4 linked regions of the Homo sapiens genome follow. The protein of the gene in region 1 interacts with the protein of each later gene in a pairwise test. Each region holds a gene or a part of one and is shown in the gene's direction. Other genes may lie near its edges. The genes, in order: SLC16A2, CNIH3, SMCO4 and PNLIPRP1.

Region 1 (4,904 bases):
TCTTTGCTGGGCACCATTGCTCACGCCTATAATCCCAGCACTTTGGGAGACTGAGGCAGGTGGATCATTTGAGGCCGGGAGTTTGAGACCAGCCTGGCCATCGTGGTGAAACCCCATCTCTACTAGAAATACAAAAAATTAGGCATGGTGGCGTGCGCCTGTAATCCCAGCTACCCGGGAGGCTGAGGCACAAGAGTTGCTTGAACCCGGGAGGCAGAGGTGGCAGTGAACCAAGATTGCGCCTCTGCACTTCAGCCTGGAGACAGAATGAAACTCTGTCTCAAGAAAAAAAAAAAAGAAAAAGAAAAGAAAAAAGGCTTTCTTGGTAAGGGCTATCTCATTGTGGTTTTAATATGCGTTTCTCAACTTATTAGTGATGTTGAGCATCTTTTTATATGCTTAATTACTATTCATATCATAAATGTATGTGCACATGTGTAATTGTGTAATCTCTGTTCAATTCTTTTGCCCATATTTTAAGTTAGATTGTTTGCTTTATTATTGAGTTATGAGAGTCAACTCACTCTTGTATGGTGGATACCGGTCTATTGTCAGATTTTGTGTGCTGCAAAATTTTTCTGTCTATGGCTTGCCTTTTCATTTTCATAACTATTTTTGAAAAGCAGAAGTTTTCAAGTTTGATCAAGTCTAATATATCAAATCTTTTCTTTTATGGATCATACGATTTGTGAATATCTGCAAAATCTTTGCCTAACCAAAGGCCAGGAAGATTTGTCTCCTATATGTTCTTCTAGAAGTTTTATAGTTTTAAGTTTTACATTAAGTCTATGATCCATTTTGCATTGATTTTTAAACATGATGTGATTATTGATATTTACAAAGTTCTCTTCTTATACATATAATTTTATCTGATTTTTTTTTTTTCTTTAGATGGAGTCTCACTCTGTCACCCAGCCTGGAGCGCAGTGGTGAGATCTCGGCTCACTGCAAGCTCCGCCTCTTGGGTTCAAGCGATTCTCCTGCCTCAGCCTCGCTAGTAGCTGGAACTACAGGCGCCCGCCCCCACACCCAGCTAATTTTTTGTATTTTGAGTAGAGACGGGGTTTCACTGTGTTAGCCAGGATGGTCTCTATCTCCTGACCTCGTGATCTGCCTGCCCTGGCCTCCCAAAGTGCTGGGATTACAGGCGTGAGCCACCACGCCTGGCCCTGATCATCAGCGGATCACAAGGTCAGGAGATCGAGACCATCCTGGCTAACACAGTGAAACCCCGTCTCTACTAAAAACACACAAAAAAATTAGCCGGGCGTGGTGGCAGGCACCTGTAGTCCCAGCTACTCAGGAGGCTGAGGCAGGAGAATGGTGTGAACCCAGGAGGCGGAGCTTGCAGTGAGGCAAGATCGGGCCATTGCATTCCAGCCTGGGTGACAAAGCAAGACTGTGTCTCAAAAAAAAAAAAAAACAAAAAAAAAACGAAAGAAAGAAAAAGAAAAAGAAATGTTTGAGGCAGGCACAAGCAGAAATTTTAATCTCCATTTCACAGATGAGAAAACTGAGGATTAGAGAAATGCTGTGTGACTTCTCAAGATCTCACAGCTGATAGGAGATGAAATGGCAAGGTAAGAGGTGAAATTGTGATAAAAAGTTAAGGTCTCCTGCTGTCCCAGGCTAGTACTTTTGAAGCCAGGCAGAGAGGGCTCAGGGTAAGGCTCCAACAAAGTAAAGATTCCCAATGGGGAGCTGAGCAACCTATTTGGCACTGAGGTAAGAGACACAGCCAGTTGACTAGCCCCAGACTGAGCTCCTTTGGCCCATTGGGGCTCCACAATTGGAGAGAGCCAGAAGTTGGCCCAGTGCCTAGCTCATGTGTCACTCTTTGATGATGATGATGAAGAGCTGGAAGTGTTCAAAGGAGAGTTCTGAAATTAATTTCAGAGTTAGAAATTAAAGCTAAGAGGAAAAGTTAAGGAAACGAAGATTATTTGGCGGAGAAAAGAGAGGCTCAAGATGAAACTTGATAACAGCCTTCAGACGAAATAAAAAAAAAAGCTTGAACTTTCCTTCTGAGGGCTGAGCAAAGGGAAACAGTCTGGAAGAATCTAAATAAAAGGGCAAGTTCCTTCCTCCTTAGTGAGGATTGTTATAGACACTTAAGAGCCTTTAGAAACAGGATAATATCTGCTTGAGTTTGAAGTCAGGAATTTGCCAAACATGGGCTCTGATGACGGATTTCAGCATGAGGGTTACATGACTCTTGCACAGTGTCCTTAGAAATCTTTAGGTGGCCTATGAACTTGCCTTGTATCCTAGTACAATTCCAGGGGGCTTTTGTCTGTGGCCTTCTCTACTCCTTAGTCTTATCGTCTTCACAGGGTTCTTCTAATGCTGGAGACAAGCCTGACCTTAGCTCCTGAAAGCTTAACCCCAATGTTTTTTGCCCCTGAAGCCAGTGGCTTAGAACCTAAGGCTATAGATCTGGCTTAGCATCCCTGGAAAGGCCTGAAATATTGACTAGTCCAAATCTTACCGCAGTGATAGAATCCCCTGTTTTATATCTAGTCTCTTCTTGCAAAACTCTCTGAACATCAGGGACTAGCAAGCTGGCAATGCAGACCAATGCAATGCCCCCTGTGAAAGGCCAGAGAAGAAGAGCTGAGATACCAGCAGTACCACCAGGCACTACACTAAGCTAAAGTGTCTTTGCACTTGTTTTCTCTGCAGCATGGGTCGGAGCCCTCGCGATGGGTATGATCTTCTTCTGTTCTCCCATTGTGAGTATATTCACTGACCGTTTGGGCTGCCGAATCACAGCAACCGCGGGGGCTGCCGTTGCTTTCATTGGCCTCCATACCAGCTCCTTCACCAGGTAAGGCTAAGAGTTGGTGGTTATTTCCCCAAGGCTGAGGGTTGGTTTTTTTCTGGGCTTTAGCTAGGGTTACTTTTCTCACTGCAGAATCCCCTGTGGCCATGGCCCTGTAGGGCCCTCAAAGATCCTGCACCCTGGATTCAGAATCCAGTGAATTCATCTGGGTAGGGTCCCCAGGACACATTGGTAGGGAATATCCCCAGAGAGGACCTAAGAGTTCCAAAGTGGTAGGAGTACTCTAAGCCTGGTAGTTCGTAGAGCTGGGCCCAAGTCCGGTTTTGGCCACTGAATGGCAATGGAACAATTGATGAGTACCATTGTTCTCTCTGTGCCTCAATTTCTATATCTGTAACATGAGGGGATTTGACCATATGGTCTTTTTACATCTCTTTCAACTCTGCTATTTGATTCCCCTTCAGTGTGCCACACATCTCACAACCTCACTTTCCATCCCAAGATTGAGCTTCTCGAGTGAGCCCATGTGAACACCTAGCACAGGATTCCCAAAGGAATCTTATGCTGAAAAAAGAGGTCAACTGAGCCCAAGGATGTTTAGCATTTCTGACTCTTTTCCAGATAGCTCAGGCTGCTGACATATGGATGATTTGGGACAGATAATGATTTACATCATGGGCATCAGAAGGATGATTAGCAATATCCCTTACTGAGATACAAACCCAGAACCCAGCTACCCAGCTAGGCCTGGGCTAAACTGAAACCCTAGTCCCACTGGTTCCACTGGCAGAACTTGGCAGTATCAGGTGAGAAGCAGGCTCTAGGTTCATTTTCTGCTTTCTTTTCTGCCAGCCCTGCAGAAGAATGTGTGTAGGGTAAGGGAGAATAAATACCCTAACCACAGCCTGAGGAATATGGAATTCCTAAAGAACTCTGTTGACTTTCTGCCAAAGACACTTTGGAAGTTATGGTACCTCCTACTTCCAATCTGCTTGGGCCGATGTAGGGGAATGCCAGCCTGGAAACACAGAAATGAGAAATGGCCGTGGTGACATGTCTGGGATGAGGTCAGAGCTAATTTGTCAGAGACTTGCTTTCTGAGCTTAGTTACCCAGAAAAGCGTCATGGCTCTCTAGGCCTAAGGTTCCACTCACAGTAGAGAATGATAATTGTGTTTTGCCTTAACTGGGCCCTGTGAGGTAAGCCAGCTTTCTTTATGACTTGAGCATTTCCAGCTGCCCAGCCTACCCTACAGCAGAGCTTGGATTTGGCCTGCAGTCATTTCTTGGCTTCGTCCTGTCCAACTGGGACAGAGAAGGGAAAAACCGTGTCCTGCCTGGAAACTACTCAGCACTCCCAGGGCAGCAGCTCCAAACCTTTTCAGAACCCCTCTGGTGGTCAGCCTCATTCACCCCCAGCAAGCTGGTGCCTGGCTCCTTGTGGGGAGGAGCTAGGCTTCAAAAGCAGCTCCAGTCTCAGCACTATACAGCAAAGGTCTGTTTTTTAAGACCGAGCAGAGCAAAGTGTAAACGGATTAGCAACATATGGATTCCATTTCCCTTCCAATCCACATGGGCTCAATTACAGGAGGGGAAGGAGCTCAGATGTGGTGTTTTCTTCTGGCACGCTACTGTAGGCACATTGGAGTAGGCGTTCTGTTCTCTAGCCCCTAACCTTCTTCTCTACCCGCTTTGTTCTTTCTGTAAGAGGATCTTCAGAGCCAAGAAACTTTCTGGATGGCTTCACATCCAGTGGAAAAATGGTTCTTCTCATGGCTAGAGCTCCAAATCATCCTTCCTGTTGTCTCAATCAGGGCCCTGAGTTCCTCCGAATGACATGGAATGGGGCAGGATGCAGGCAGGGCTGGTGGGGCTTTGGAAAACCCAAACAATGGGCATCCATCCCTGGGGCCCAGCTAGAAGTAGATCCACCACATGGATCTAAACCAAATCCTATGTTTTTCCCCCACTGGCCCCTTCCCTGAAGGTCTAACACAAGGCCCCTTGGATAAGGCCCCCAAGCCAGGCCGATCCCATAGGGTACCTAGAATCTAATGGGCACAGGCCCAAAGGAACCTGACAGAAGAGGAACCGTTGGCTTAGCTATGTGTTCCAAGCAGAGA
Region 2 (4,904 bases), on another chromosome or scaffold:
TGGGGAAAATAATCTGCTACTGGTTTCCCTTGAATAGTGGCCCAGGCCCCAGTGGTCAGCCATGAGGGTCCAATTCTGGCCATGGAAGGCCAAGATCAAAGCAATACTTGGTCCAGGCATTTAGGAGAGCTCCTAACAGCAAAGGGTTTTGAGTCACAGCCACAGTTCCTGGTGTACATAAAATCAGTAGGTGTCATATTAATTTTATGGTGACTTTTTAAATTATTCTAGGACCAGACATGATGGTTCACGCCGCTAATCCCCACAATTTGGGAGGCTGAGGTAGGAGGATCACTTAAGCCCAGGAGTTGAAGACTAGCCTGGGAAACATAGACCCCATCTCTTAACAAAAAATTTTAAAAAATTTTAAATAAGATTATAATTCTAGACTAGGTTATTCTGTGTTAAGTTGCTTATGTAGCAGAGCCTTTGTCTTATGGCTTAAAACTATTTAATAAACTTTGATGCAAATTCCAGGAGGTCAAAACATTTAATATGCCAGCACCAACAAATAGGGACCACTCAAGTCGACCCAACCCAAGTCCCAGCTGGCGGAGTGTTCCTACTGTATCATGCCATTTGAGGTTGGCTGCTAGTCCCTGACACAGCAAGGCCTATGGGGCTGGGCAGCCCTCCTGGATGCCCAGGCTGGTGCAGGCTTTCCAAAGACGACCTTCATCCAGAGTGATTAAAGAGCATGTGGCCTCCTGAGAGCAAAGGGGCCCAGAATGTAGTTTCCTGACATTGCTTGGAGATGCTCACGTGCATGATTATTCATTTGGGAACAAATGGAGAATGATCTCCATGCTGGGAATACTGACTTCGTCCGGGGCATCCCAGAGGGATCCTCTGTTTTAGGGCCAGTTTAGTATGGGCTGAGGAATCAAATAAAAGATATAGTATCTTTTTCTCCACACTCTTTGGCTCCTGGGGCAAATAAACCTTAGGGCAGACACACAGAACTGGATTATTGCTGTTGAAAACAGGCAAGGATTGAGGTTTTTTATGATTTGAGAGGCAGGCTGTTGAAACAGCCCTTGGTTTCTCTTCCCACTTGAGGAAGCTGGAGCTTGGTTCAATCAGAGGGAGTCAGGAGACTGAATTGAAAAATCAGGAAACCAACTCTGGTTCTGGGTCATTTCATTGACTTTCACGGTAAGAGCAACAAGTTATCTACCTGAGAATGGTCATCATCTAGTATATGATTATTAAAAATAATAATGACCGGCCAGGCATGGTGGCTCATGCCTGCAATCCCAGCACTTTGGGAGGCCAAAGCAGGTGGATCACGAGGTCAGGAGTTCAAGATCAGCCTGGTCAATATAGTGAAACCCCCATCTCTACTAAAAATACAAAAATTAGCCGGGCATGGTGGCACATGCCTGCAGTACCAGCTACTCGGGAGGCTGAGGCAGGAGAATCACTTGAACCTGGGAGGTGGAGGTTGCAGTGAGCCAAGATCGTGCTACTGCACTCCAGCTTGGGTGACAGAGCAAGACTCTATCTCAGAAAAAATAATAATGATAATAATGATCACAACACAATAACAATAGTGGTGTCTTCTTTTGCTGGAGGCTTCTTCACTTTTGAGAGCACTGTCATTCATAGTACATCCTGTGTCCCTGGCTGGTAGGTATGGCATTTTACAGATGGGTAAAATAAGACTCAGCATGGGTAGCTGCTTTTCTAAATAGCACACAGTTGAGTATTATGTAACTGTAGGAATTTATATAATGCTTTGAGACACTGGGCTAATATATTGAGACTTATGGGATTACAGCTGTAAAGCTTGTTGTCTGAGTCGACAGGGGCATTCAGAGATGGGTAGAGACTCTGAGTCTCACAGCTTCTACTGTCTTCAAGATAAACTCAGTGCCAGGAGCTTCCCTGTGGCTTCCATAGCTGTGACTTTTAAAGTGTTTGGTCCCAGGCATGCTGACACCAGCCCCTCAGAAAACCTATGCCCTTGGAATGCATGATGAGAGCCAGGAGCAGACGGATCTCCAACAACAGGGGCGCTTGCTGCCTCTTCATCTCCCTCATCTTCTCCCTTCCCCTGGTCTTAAGGAATCCCTTTTCTCCACCAGGAGCATTATTCCCTTGCTTCAACTCCAAGCATCCCCTTCCTACTTCTTTTCCTTTAGGGGTAAGAAGAATCTCTCCCACAACCCCTGATGCCCCTCTCCACCACAGTAGTAAAAATAAGACAGGACTTGGCACACGATTCTATTGTTTTCATAATCTATAAAGGGTACCAATCAGCTGCAGGTCATTGATGGGATAAAACAGCAAACAAATGGATACATGAATGAATGAGAGGATACATAACTAGAAATAAAATATTTAGAATGCAGACAAGTAAAATTCCTGGAAAAACAAGATTGTGGACAATGGCTTACAGCTGAGCTGAGCATGGCATATACTGCTCTGTTGGGTGGAGGGCACATGTGTGCAGGGATGGAAACCTGCTAGAAGGTTCTTGCACCAGCCTGGAGAGGAGGTCCAGGGGCAGGATAAATAAAAAGGAAGGAACAAATGCAAGTGGCTGTGAAGAAGCAAGATTTGGAAACAGACTTACATGGAGACTGATGAGAAGAAGGAGTCAGAGATGGTATGGTTAGTAGAAGTTGGAAATTTAGGAGATAAAGTTTGCAGGTACTGATAGGAATGTGAATTTCAGCACAAAGTGGTTGTGGGATATCCAGGTGGAAATGTTTGCCAGCAAATGAAAATTGACTATTAGCATCTGGGTAGGAAGTCAGGACAGGTGGAATACAGTTAGCGTTTACACAGTCCTTACCGGTTATCATTAATGTCCTTTAATAGGGGCCCTTTGAGGTGGCCTTGTTAAGGAGCCACCCCAGACCAGTGACTTCCATCTCTCTATGCTTTTGCTTTCACTGTTCCACTTCTAGGATGCCGACCTCTGGTTCCCATAAGTGATTAGGTTTTACTCGCCCTTTCCAACTTCCCTTTGATCACAAACCTTCCATGATCCCCCTGGTTGGAATGAATTGCAGTCTTTCAGTAATCCCACAATACTTATATTGAGATTTAGGATTTATGACTCTAGAAAGCAGGGTAATAATACATGGCAATTCAATAGGCTGTGGCTTGCATGAAATAGTTTCTCCATTTGTTGAAAGAATGAGATTGGCACCATTCAACAGCTTCTCTTATTAAAAAAAAAAAAGTGTTTTCCAAAGCTAAGGGATGACTCAGGGTCATGGGGCTGTGGTGAGCGCTTGCATCAGCATCTCTGTATTTTGCTTAGAAGCTTTAGGGGTGGTCCTTATATAACAGACACTCTCAGAGTTGGGAGGGAACGCCTGGTCTGACTGCCCACACAAATGAATGAGCATTATGCCTGCCTGGTGGTTATTCAGCCCCTGCCCGAGCATGTCCGGTGACAGGGAGCTGTGTCCTGCCGGCCTCGATGGCTTGTTAAGGAAGGGCTGAGTGGATGGTTGGGGGAGGATAAACAGTGAAGAGCACAACTTTGCTTTTCCCATTGATTACTCAGTCTGGGGCTTGCTGATGGTATCATATGAGATAGGTTAAATCATGCTATGGCAAAACAACAACAACAACAACAACACTCAACTCTTGGCAGCTTAAAACAACACAAGTTTCTTTACTGCTCACACTCTAGTCCATCATGAGTTGCCTGGGGGCCTCTTTCCTTACTTGTGGCTTCAGGATGATGGAGTACCCACCATCCTAAATGCTTTTTGCTTTGTCAGAGGAAAAGGAAAAGAGACTCTGGAGAATTTTGTATCAGCCGTTAAGTGGTCTGGCCTTCTCTCCACATCACTTCTGCCCACAGCCCATCAGCAGCCCCAACCCCTGAGAGCTGGAAAATGAGACCTTACCACCTTCCAGAAGGCTGAGTGCTGGGTGTGAGTGGAGGCAGCCATAATGGCTATGGTGCAGGCCTCATGCAAATGGCCTGGCTGATTTCCATTTGGTCTAGAAGGAAGAGGTTCCTTACCTCTTCCACATCATTGTGACAAGAAGCAGCTGGTGAAGTAGGCAAGGATCAGTGTGTGTATCAAAAGGTCACTGTCACTCCTAAAAGTCTCTGGATTAATTGGAGGAGCCTCTTCTACTTGTAAGGATCCTGTTCAGTGTTCTAGGCATAAGAGGTCATCTAGAGAAGCCACCTGAAATGGCAGAATAAATTCTTCAGCTTTTTTCCCAACCTCCAAAAGGCTGGAGACCTCCGTGACTAGCTGGCCTGCATTAAGCAGTTTTCCTCTACGTGGAGACAGTGATGAATCCTCCCTGCTTGGAAGGTTGCAGCCTCCACAATAAATCAAGCCCCAAAGAGAGAAGAAGCAGTGGTGATTAAGAGTGGGACCTGAAATCCAAACTGTAATCAGTCAGAGATTTGTCATTGGAATTGGAGATGGAGATGGAGAAATAATGGATGATTCAGGCCCACGGTGGCTGTCTCTAAACATGTTAATTGCCTCAGCTTAAGTGGCTGAAACTGATGATTAGAAAATGTAGAGATGTGCATAGCAGAACTCACAGCCACTGCCTCCCGGGGCTGGCGCACCCAGCTCTGAGAAAGTGGGCTTTCTCTTTGAATGGGAGGGGGTAGGGTGATGCCTTGGCTGGGGGTAGATAGGATTGGTTATCACAGCTCTGAGGTCCTATAAGGAGATACAATAGGGACATGGCGTGCCCCCTCCTGCCAGGTGGTTGAGATTCACAGGGGCTGGTGGTACCTGCTTCACCCACCAAGGGTCACCACCTCTGGAATGATGGCTCCTTTGCTCTGATTCCTCAGGTGATTGCCTGAGAAGTCTAAGGTGAGGGTTAATGCAATTCATCTACACTGGACTTTGAGAATAAAGAAGGTGCCCCATAGTTACAAAATGTCTTACACGTGTGCTGTG
Region 3 (4,614 bases), on another chromosome or scaffold:
GAGACGCTGCTCCTCCTGAAGCCTGATGAAGTACCCAGGATTCAGACGGGCATGTTTGCCCTTTAAATCCTGACCAGACCGGCCCTGGCCCCAGCAGCTTGAGGCTTTTTTCCATGCCTCCAGGAACTTCTGAATGCATCTTACAAATGTTGAGAACTGGTCATTGTGGAGGCTGGGGCCTTTGAATGTCAACTACACTTGTGTGGGTGGATGCAGACAGCAGCATGAAGTGCAGGAGGGAAGTCAGGCCCAGCACTGCTAGCCAGCCAGCCAGGGCATGGCTAGCCCCAGGCCTGGGGTGCCACCTGCCAGTCCTGTGAGGAATTTGGGAGAGACAGCAGCGGGCTCCGACAGGCCATTAGCTCCACAAGGAAATGGCCACGAATCAGAGTGCTGCTAATGGCTTGTTTCTTTTTAAACAATTTTTTTGAGGCCGTGTCGGAGAGAATAGGCTGCCATTTGCAGCTTTGAACAGGAATGCTGTCCATTGCTCTGTTAGAAGCCATGGGGTATTTACAAACTGGGTGACTGTTGGCAAGACATTTTTCCCCTTTGCTCCTTGGTTTCCTCCCTTCCGTGATGGGGATAATAAAGCCTGTCTGTCTGACTCACAGGGCCGTTGGGGTGTGTTCCAGGTGTTGGTATGTCAGCTAGCACGAATTCGCCGCCCGCTCTGTGCCAAGCCCTGAGTTATACAGCTTCCTACTCCATCCTCACCACGGTCCCGCGAAGGTGGGCATCACTCAAGGCTGCAGTCAGGCTTAGAGGAGCTCAGTGCACCCGTCCCTGGGCCGCCCACGGGTATGGGTGGAGATGTCTCAGCCCACCTGTACCGCGTCCCTGCGGGCGGGCAGAGCTCTGGGTACAGATGCATTTGTTTTCCAGATTCTCACAGTCATCCTTTAAGACAAGCTGTTCTCATTGTTCAGATGATGGCATGGAGGCCTAGTGGAGTTAAGTGACTTGCTCAAAGCCATTTAGCCTGTAAGTGATTGGTCCTGGATTTGAAGGCAAGTCTGCCTGGAAGTCCTTTGGAAGACTTGAAAAGGAGAATTGGTAAAGCCAGGGGTTCCTATACCTTTCAGGCCTTAAGAAAGTAATAGTAGGTGTTTTTTTTTTTCTCTCTGTTCCTTATTTCATGAAGGAAATTATACATTTGCCCAAATGGCGCTTCCCTTAATATTTGCTGAACCTTAATGTTTGCTTTTGATTGGCATTATGCCATCCTAGCACAATAATATTTGTCATCTCATACCTTAGGAAACTCTGCCTGATTTTGAATGATACAAAAAAGGTTTTGGGGTCTAAATGGAGTGAGAGGAATGGTAAGAGATTAAGTATCCCTCATAAAAACAGGATGGTGTCAGTAAGACCTTTCCCAACTCTGAGTTCACATTCTACCACCTCGGTCACTTAGGTGTAAATGTCATCTTCCTCCTCAAGATGATGACAGGCCACCCACTACCCTGGGACAAAACAGGGCAGACAGTATACAGCATAGGTCCCTCTGCTAGAGGAACATTGGTATTCAGTGCTCTTCTGCTTCCAAGAACCCCTCACTCCATGCTACTCTCCGAGAATATTGTAATGGACATCTGCCTTTGATATAGCCCTGATACCCAACCCCACTCCGTCACTGTGTTTGAAAAGTACTCTTCCTGCTGTACAAATTGGAAGGCTAGGCTGTGGGCATATGGGCCGGGGCTTGGCTAGTCACACATGCATGGAAGCTGGTGATGCAGAATGCTGGGGGGTGGCGAGTTCATCTGGAGACTGTGCCAGCAGCCACATCTAGTTTTTGGGGGTGGTCATGGTGGCTCGGCACCTCCTGCTCCAGTGCCCATGTCCAGTGCTGACGGTGGTGATGCAGGCTCTGGCATCCTCACACTGGGAGTGTGAGTTGGGCTCCAGTTATGGCAGCACAGCATAATGTCCTGCCCATTTTCTGAGCCTGGTTCTTTGGCTTTTCTGGGAATCAGTGAGATGCCAAAGGCCTTTAAGTAAACTCGATTTAAATCAGCTGAAGTCTGCTTCATCTGCTTAAAGCTAAGAAGCCGACTTTTATAGAGATGTTCCTCTGTAGTTATCCAAACATTTGTATTCATTCTTCTGGCCCCTGAAAGTTCTACTTCACCTGTTAGGCACCTCCGTGAGCTACAGAATTAACAGGAGAATCCCAGGTTGAGTGGGTGGCAGGACTGTGGGCTCAGCCGTCTCCCTTCATTATTACTGTGACCCGGGTCTCCATCATGCCCCCTAGACGGTGACCTCTGTGGGGACACAACTGAGTCCTTCATCTCTATCCTCAGCTCCTTGAGTAATGCTTGGCACACGGTGGGTGCTTGGGAAGGTTTGGATGAATGGGCCAAGGAACCAACAAAGAGATGAGAGAAGTTGATGCCTGTGGGCTCTCTGCAGCCTTAATGAGGCTGGCCTGGCTTGGGCAGGAAGGGGGCTACGTGCCTGGAGACTGCAGGCTGCCTGCAGTTCCATGCTGGAGATGGGCTGGGGAGATCATGGAACTTAGAGCAGGAAAGCAAGTAGCTAGAGCCACGAAAGGGAGAGCCGCTCCTCTGAGTGGAGGCGGCGTAGTTGGTGCTTCCCAATCCTTTCACCTCATGGCATGTACAGAACACAGTATTATTTGTCTGGTACCCAGGGCTTTGTCCAGCTGGCGCTGGAGCGGAGGCCCCTCTCACAGCACACCGGTGACCCAGTGCCCACTACTTAGAGCGCTGATCCCAAGAGAACTTAGAGCCTGGTGTGGCCTCTGTTCTTAGCCCTTTGTCATGTAAGTTGCAGATATTTTTCCTAGTTGTGTATTTGCCTTTAAGTGATTTATTTTTTCTTCTATTTGGTTTATTCTCTACTATCACAGTTGTTCTCTCTACAGGAGGTTCCAGCCTTGGCAAGAGGAGTGTGGCCCTTCCTGGAATCCCTCTGGACACACCCTCCTAGCATCCTCTAGGAAAGATGCGGCAGCTCAAAGGGAAGCCCAAGAAGGAGACCTCCAAGGACAAGAAGGAGCGGAAGCAAGCCATGCAGGAGGCCCGGCAGCAGATCACTACAGTGGTGCTGCCCACGCTGGCCGTGGTCGTGCTCTTGATCGTGGTGTTTGTGTACGTGGCCACGCGCCCCACCATCACCGAGTGAGCCCCGCAGCCGGCTGCGGACCCCATCGGCAGGGAGAGGAGGCGCGGGAGGGGGACGCAAACAAAAAATGGCTTTCATATTCAGAGATGTTCATGTTGCTGAGCTGTAAGCAGGAGCACCCTGTCTTCTCTGGTCTTTGACTTGATTAAAGTATCTCCGCTTTCTTGGGAGGGAATAGGGGATGTTTTATCAGTGAATGTGCCATACACCTTATGGTCCACTTCATGTGCCTTTCAGACTTCAAAGCGCGCGCGCATGTGTGTGTGTGTGTGTGTGTGTGTGTGTGTGTGTGTGTGCTTCTTTTTCTCTCCTAAAAATCGATAAGTAGCTCCACCTGAAGAGGGATGGAACCTCTGGGTCAGGAAACAGCTGGAATCCACACTCACCTCATTCCCATTGTTTGGATCATGCTTCTTTCCAACACGTGTTCACAATCTCCAAAGGGACTGTATTTCTTCTCTGTGCTTAATGTGATTTGAAATATGTTGAATCAAAGTGAAATATTTATTTTTTGAATAAAGGAGATAATAGCCTTAAACTGGATGCTTATCATGTTTTGCAAGGAGGTGCTGTCTGTGGGTCTCCCCCTGCCCACGGGTCTGCCCCTCTTCCCTCCCCTTCCCTTTCTCCTGTGGCTCTCTCCACCTTCCCCAGCACTCCCTCTGCTCATCATTTCTGAGTAAAATTATGCTTTTTGACCGATAATTTTAAGATGGAGAGGGACAGAAAGGGTATATTAATTGGCTTGCTTTAGAAAGTGAGAGTTCTAATTAGACTGTGACGACAGGTGCTTTTTACACCAGTTAGTTTTTCCTACTTCAACTCGGTATGTTTGTGCAAACAGCAATACAGAGTGATCCTGGAAGTAAAGGTCAGGCTTGGTTTTGTTCTTAGCTGAAAGGATGCAAATTGTTGGCATTCCAGCTGAGTTTTCAATGCAAATTGGCTGGAATGGTTGCCTCATTTTATTCTAACAGCACTGCTCAGGCGGTCCTGGTTCCTGATGGAGCAGCCTCTTTTTGGAAGTCAGATTCATGGTTACTGTTCTGAGGATGTCTGTTTTCCTGTCATTGCTGATTATGGAGATCTGTGGGGAGAGAAGTGCTTTTCCTAATCCCCGTGGCTGCGCGACTCGCTCACAGATGGCAGAGGCTGTTAGTGGAGATTTGGGGCCTCTTGGAGTGAGTCTCTCTGGAAGACGAAGCAGCTATTGAAAGGAAGGACTTCTCTGGCTGATGCCTGGAGAGCCTGGACTCAGCAGGCTGACAGAGCTCTGCGGCCCCGCTCTGTGAGCTGGTCTCAGAGAGACTCCGTGTCTCCTCATGCTCACTCAAGGGCCAATGGCCCTGGTAAGAGATTTGCTAAAATACTTGCCAAATTCAGAGGCTGCTAGCATCAAGTTCCTCTGAGGTTTCTGTTTTCCTCCCCTTTATTTGGTTCTGTTATGAACTTCAGTGCTTG
Region 4 (4,904 bases), on another chromosome or scaffold:
TTGAGTCTGTAAGCTATTGTCCTGCCTCGAGCAACAAGCATCACCCCTCTGAGGGACTGCTGTCCTGCTGCGTTTGGGATTTGCAATGCCTTCTCACTACACGTTTTGCATTGACCCTCAGAGTTCATGGTCCTGTGGAGTGGAAGAGAAAAAAAAGTAAACAACTTTTGGCAGGAGATGGCTAAAATTTTAGATGACATGAGTTATGTGGCAGAGGAAAACTGGGAAATCAGAGAGAAAGAGCAGTCAATTCAATGATATAGAGGCTTCCTGCAGGAGGCAACCTCTGAATCTAGCTTAAAAATGATACAGTTTAGAAAACACAGGAATGCACATTTCTGGCAAGGGCAGAGCGAGAGTAGAAGAATGTATAGAGAATAATTCACACCAGAGAGAAAGCAAGGTGGATGCTGGAGTCCTATATGCCAGGCTGGCAACAAGGGGAGAGATGAAGAATGACAGGTTAGAGCCTGCCTATTCTGGCTCACGAAAGCCAGCATGAGTATCCCTTCCCAACTCCAAATTCAGAGACATCATGTTGGTAGCCTGAAACTGGCCACAGTCAGAGTATTTACACCACTGAAAATGGTAAGCACTGCAATCCAGGGTTTTTGTCCCAGAGCTTTTGCTGCTTATCATTCACCAGCTCCACTCAACAGAAGGTATAATTGATCTAACCTGGGTCCTGGGCATCAGTATTTTTTAAAGCTCCTCAAATAATTCTAATGTGTTGTGCCTAAAAGTTGGGAACCCTGATCCAGATGAAGGTAATTTAGAGATCATCTGCTCCAACCCCTTTGTTGTCACAAAGGAGAACGCTTAGGCTGTAGGAAAATTGAGTGTCTGCCCTCTCAGATGTATCGATCATACAAACACAAATTCTCCTTACAGTCCCATCTATCTCTTCTCATTAGGACAAGTGCTTCCCGTGTCCAGATCAAGGATGCCCACAGATGGGTCACTATGCTGATAAATTTGCTGGCAGGACAAGTGAAGAGCAGCAGAAATTCTTCTTGAACACAGGAGAGGCTAGCAATTTCGCTCGTAAGTTGCACTTTGACTACCTGCCCATGTAAAGAAAGTATATAGTTTCTGTTACAAATGAGGGGCTTGCTTTCAACCTGAAATATTTGTGGGTACATTTTAATTATCTTAGAAATGGACACATTTACCGAAACTATTGCAGTTACAAGTAAACTGAGGATTTAGACAGAGTGTGCATTTCTTCCGTTCTATTTCTGCGGCATGAAATGAGAGCAAGCAACTAGTATAATTAATGGGATGAGGCCAGTTTGCACATCCTTGTGACCAGCTACCCTGAATTTTTACCACTCCACAGTTCATTGTTTCTTTCCTTTTTAAGGCCGCATCAGACACACCTGTTCTCTTCATTCAGCAAAGACGTAATTGGTACCAGCTCTTTGCTGGGCTATGTCCCTTAAGAAGCCCAACTCCATTCTCTGCTTTCCCCTCTGTCTGTGCATCCCTGATGCCCAGGGGCTGCCTCGCTGGTGGAGTGCAGGCAGGAATCAGGGGGAAGGATGATTTCTCTCCAAAACCTGCTGAATGGACTAAGACACAGGGTAGAGACTGGGCATGTTTGGGCCACTTTGTACCAACCTGCCCCATGACACTTCCATAGGAGGTGACCCAGTAAAGACAGAGGTTACATATTCATATAAATGTATAACACATCTTACATAGTTTTTAAAGTCAGATTTATTGAGGTATAATTTATATTTGGCAAAATGCACGCTGTTTAGCATACACTTGTATGAGTTTGGACAAATGAATAGTTGTGTAAACACCTCCAAATCAAGATACAGAACACTTCTATCACCATATATATCACTCTGTAATTTTTTTTTTTTTTTTTGAGACGGAGTCTCGCTGTGTCGCCCAGGCTGGAGTGCAGAGGCGCAATCTTGGCTCACTACAACCTCCCCCTCCCGGGTTCACGCCATTCTCCTGCCTCAGCCTCCCGAGTAGCTGGGACTACAGGCGCCCGCCACCATGCCAGGCTAATTTTTTTTTTACATTTTTAGTAGAGACGGGGTTTCACCATGTTAGCCAGGATGGTCTCGATCTCCTGACCTTGTGATCCGCCTGCCTCGGCCTCCCAAAGTGCCGGGATTACAGGCGTGAGCCACCGCACCCGGCCCACTCTGTGTATTTTTTTTGTAAGAAGACATTGATTAATCAATCCTTCCACTGATGTTGTGATGCATGAAATACTTGCCAATATTTCAACAACAAATTAAACACTCAAAAACCAGGTATTCATTCCTCAATCAACATTTATTTATGGGCCACAGACTATGCTAGACACTGAGGATGCAGGGACGAACAAGAGACTCCTCTCATGAAATTAATAATCCAGCCAAAGACAGAAACTGGGCAAGCAACTACAAGCGTGTTGGGCTTGGTGGCTGTTGCCATGACATTATGGGACAGAGAACCTGGCCCTGACCAGAAGGAGGGTCAGGGTCAAGGTCTCTGAAGACACGAAAGATGAATAGGAGTTAGGCAAGAATCATGTCTGTGTATATTAATGTACATCTGTGCACATGTGTGGGTGTATGAATGCATGTGTGAGTGTGTTTGTGTATGTACCTTTGTGTGTATGCATGTGTTTATATACGTATGTATATGAGTCTGTATGTTTATGTATATGTATGTGCATGTGTATGTATATTTGTATGTGGGTGTCTATGTATGTGCGTGGTTAAATGTGTGTAGGTTTGTGTGTGTGTGCACATACACATGCATGTTTGTGTAGATGTATGTGTGTGTGCACATGCACATGTTGTGTATATGTATTTGTGTATGTGCACGCACATGCATGTTTGTGTATATGTATTGTGTGTGCACATGCATATGTTTGTGTATATGTATTTGTGTGTGTGCACGCACATGCATATGTTTGTGTATATGTATTTGTATTTGTGTGCGTGTGCATGCAGGCCCTGGGACAGCATTTCAGGTAGAAGCCTAAGTGACAGCTGCTCGTGCACCTGCTCTGTGCTAGAGACTGCCCAGGGCCCTGGGGAGCAGAGAGGAAACACAGTCCCCGCCCTCGAGGTGCTTGCCAGGCTGCACTCCCGAGCTACCTTCCCAAATGTGGAGACAAGCCCCTATTCCCTCTCTCTTCACCTTACCTTACTGTACTGCCATTCTGGGGCAGAGCTGGCTAACAGAACTTTCTGCAATGAGGGGCATATTCTGTGTAGCCATTAGCCTCATGTGGCAACTTAACATTTGCAACACAGCGAATGAGTTTGAGAAACTAAATTTTTAATTGTATTTAATTTGGATTTAAATGTAAGCAGCCACATGTGGCTGGTGACCTCCTCCCTGGGCAATGCAGTTCTAGAGGGGGATACTGCTAAATACATACTTCTCCATAAGGCCTTGTTTGATTTGTAGATTAACAAATAGAATTTCTTATACTTTGGCTGGGTGTGGTGGCTCACGCCTGTATTCCCATCACTTTGGGAGGCGGACACGGGCGGATCACTTGAGGTCAGGAGTTGGAGACCAGCTTGACCAACATGGCGAAACTCTGTCTCTACTAAAAATACAAAAATTAGCCAGGCGTGATGGTGTGTGCCTGTAGTCCCAGCTACTAGGGAGGTTGAGGCAGAAGAATTACTTGAACCTGGGAGGCAGAGGTGGCAGTGAGCCAAGATTGCACCACTACACTCCAGCCTGGGTGACAGAGTGAGACCCCATCTCAAAAAATAATAATAATAATTTTTTAGAAAAGAATTTCTTATGCTTTGTTGCCTCAGAGTAAGAGAAGGAGACAAGTCTGGGATGTAGGCTACTTATTTTGTGTGTGAATAAATTGAACTCTTCCATCTCCTGTGCAGGCTGGAGATATGGGGTTTCCATCACACTGTCTGGAAGAACAGCCACTGGTCAGATCAAAGTTGCTTTGTTTGGAAATAAGGGAAACACTCACCAGTACAGTATCTTCAGGTAATTTCCTATTTTAACACTACGTCTCATTTGATGATATACACAGCCTTCAAACCACACACTTAATTTGAACACTTATCATCTCTTTATATGTCACTGGTTTTTAATTATAGTCATGCAACATGTAACAACATTTTAGTTGATGGACCACATACACAACAGTTGCTTTATAAGCTTGTAATACCATATTTTTACTGTACTTTTTCTATGTTTGGGTGTTTAGATACACAAATACTTACCATTGTGTTCCAGTTGTCTACAGAACTCAATACAGTAACATGTAGTACAGGTTTGTAACCTAGGAGCAATAGGCTGTACCATACAGCCTAGGTATGTAGTAGGCTGTGCCATCTACGTTTGTGTGAGTACATGCTATGATGTCCACACAATGATTAAATTACCTAAGGACACATTTCTCAGAACATATCTCCATTGTTAAGCAACGCAGGACTATATAACTTTATGTACTGATGTTAATTGCAGACTTCTGCTAATAATTTTTCTTTTCTGTTATAAACCTAGGCATTTCGTCCTTTCTCTCTCTTTTTTTTTTTTTTTTTTTTTTTTGAGAAAGAGTCTTTGCTCTGTCACCCAGGCTGGAGTGCAGTGGCACGATCTTGGCTCATTGCAACCTCCGCCTCCCGGGTTCAAGAAATTCTCGTGCCTCAGCCTCCCAAGTAGCTGAGATTACAGGCATGTGCCACCACACCTGGCTGATTTTTGTATTTTTAGTAGAGATGGGGGGCGTTTTGCCATGTTGGCCAGGCTGGTCTCGAACTTCTGACCTCAAGTGATCCACCCATCTCGGCCTCTCAAAGTGCTGGGATTACAGACGTGAGCCACCATGCCCGGCCTCTTTCTCTTAATAGATGTTTTTTTAAACATAAATCTAATATTACTTCAGATATGCTGTTTTCTGATTA

The links.
Region 2: the proteins of SLC16A2 (region 1) and CNIH3 interact in a two-hybrid assay, tested with the Homo sapiens proteins (one large-scale study listed by BioGRID).
Region 3: the proteins of SLC16A2 (region 1) and SMCO4 interact in a two-hybrid assay, tested with the Homo sapiens proteins (one large-scale study listed by BioGRID).
Region 4: the proteins of SLC16A2 (region 1) and PNLIPRP1 interact in a two-hybrid assay, tested with the Homo sapiens proteins (one large-scale study listed by BioGRID).

Annotation. Positions count from the first base shown.
Region 1 is NC_000023.11:74,518,308-74,523,211, forward strand, and holds part of SLC16A2 (monocarboxylate transporter 8), read left to right. Parts: intron 1-2,682; coding exon 2,683-2,827; intron 2,828-4,904. UniProt on the Homo sapiens protein: Specific thyroid hormone transmembrane transporter, that mediates both uptake and efflux of thyroid hormones across the cell membrane independently of pH or a Na(+) gradient.
Region 2 is NC_000001.11:224,723,703-224,728,606, forward strand, and holds part of CNIH3 (protein cornichon homolog 3), read left to right. Parts: intron 1-2,221; exon of another isoform or gene 2,222-4,163; intron 4,164-4,904. UniProt on the Homo sapiens protein: Regulates the trafficking and gating properties of AMPA-selective glutamate receptors (AMPARs).
Region 3 is NC_000011.10:93,477,549-93,482,162, reverse strand, and holds the end of SMCO4 (single-pass membrane and coiled-coil domain-containing protein 4), read left to right. Parts: intron 1-2,878; coding exon of another isoform or gene 2,879-2,973; coding exon 2,974-3,153; coding exon of another isoform or gene 3,154-3,293; 3' UTR 3,294-3,691; downstream 3,692-4,614.
Region 4 is NC_000010.11:116,600,158-116,605,061, forward strand, and holds part of PNLIPRP1 (inactive pancreatic lipase-related protein 1 precursor), read left to right. Parts: coding exon 1-8; intron 9-914; coding exon 915-1,044; intron 1,045-3,872; coding exon 3,873-3,981; intron 3,982-4,904. UniProt on the Homo sapiens protein: May function as inhibitor of dietary triglyceride digestion. Lacks detectable lipase activity towards triglycerides, diglycerides, phosphatidylcholine, galactolipids or cholesterol esters (in vitro).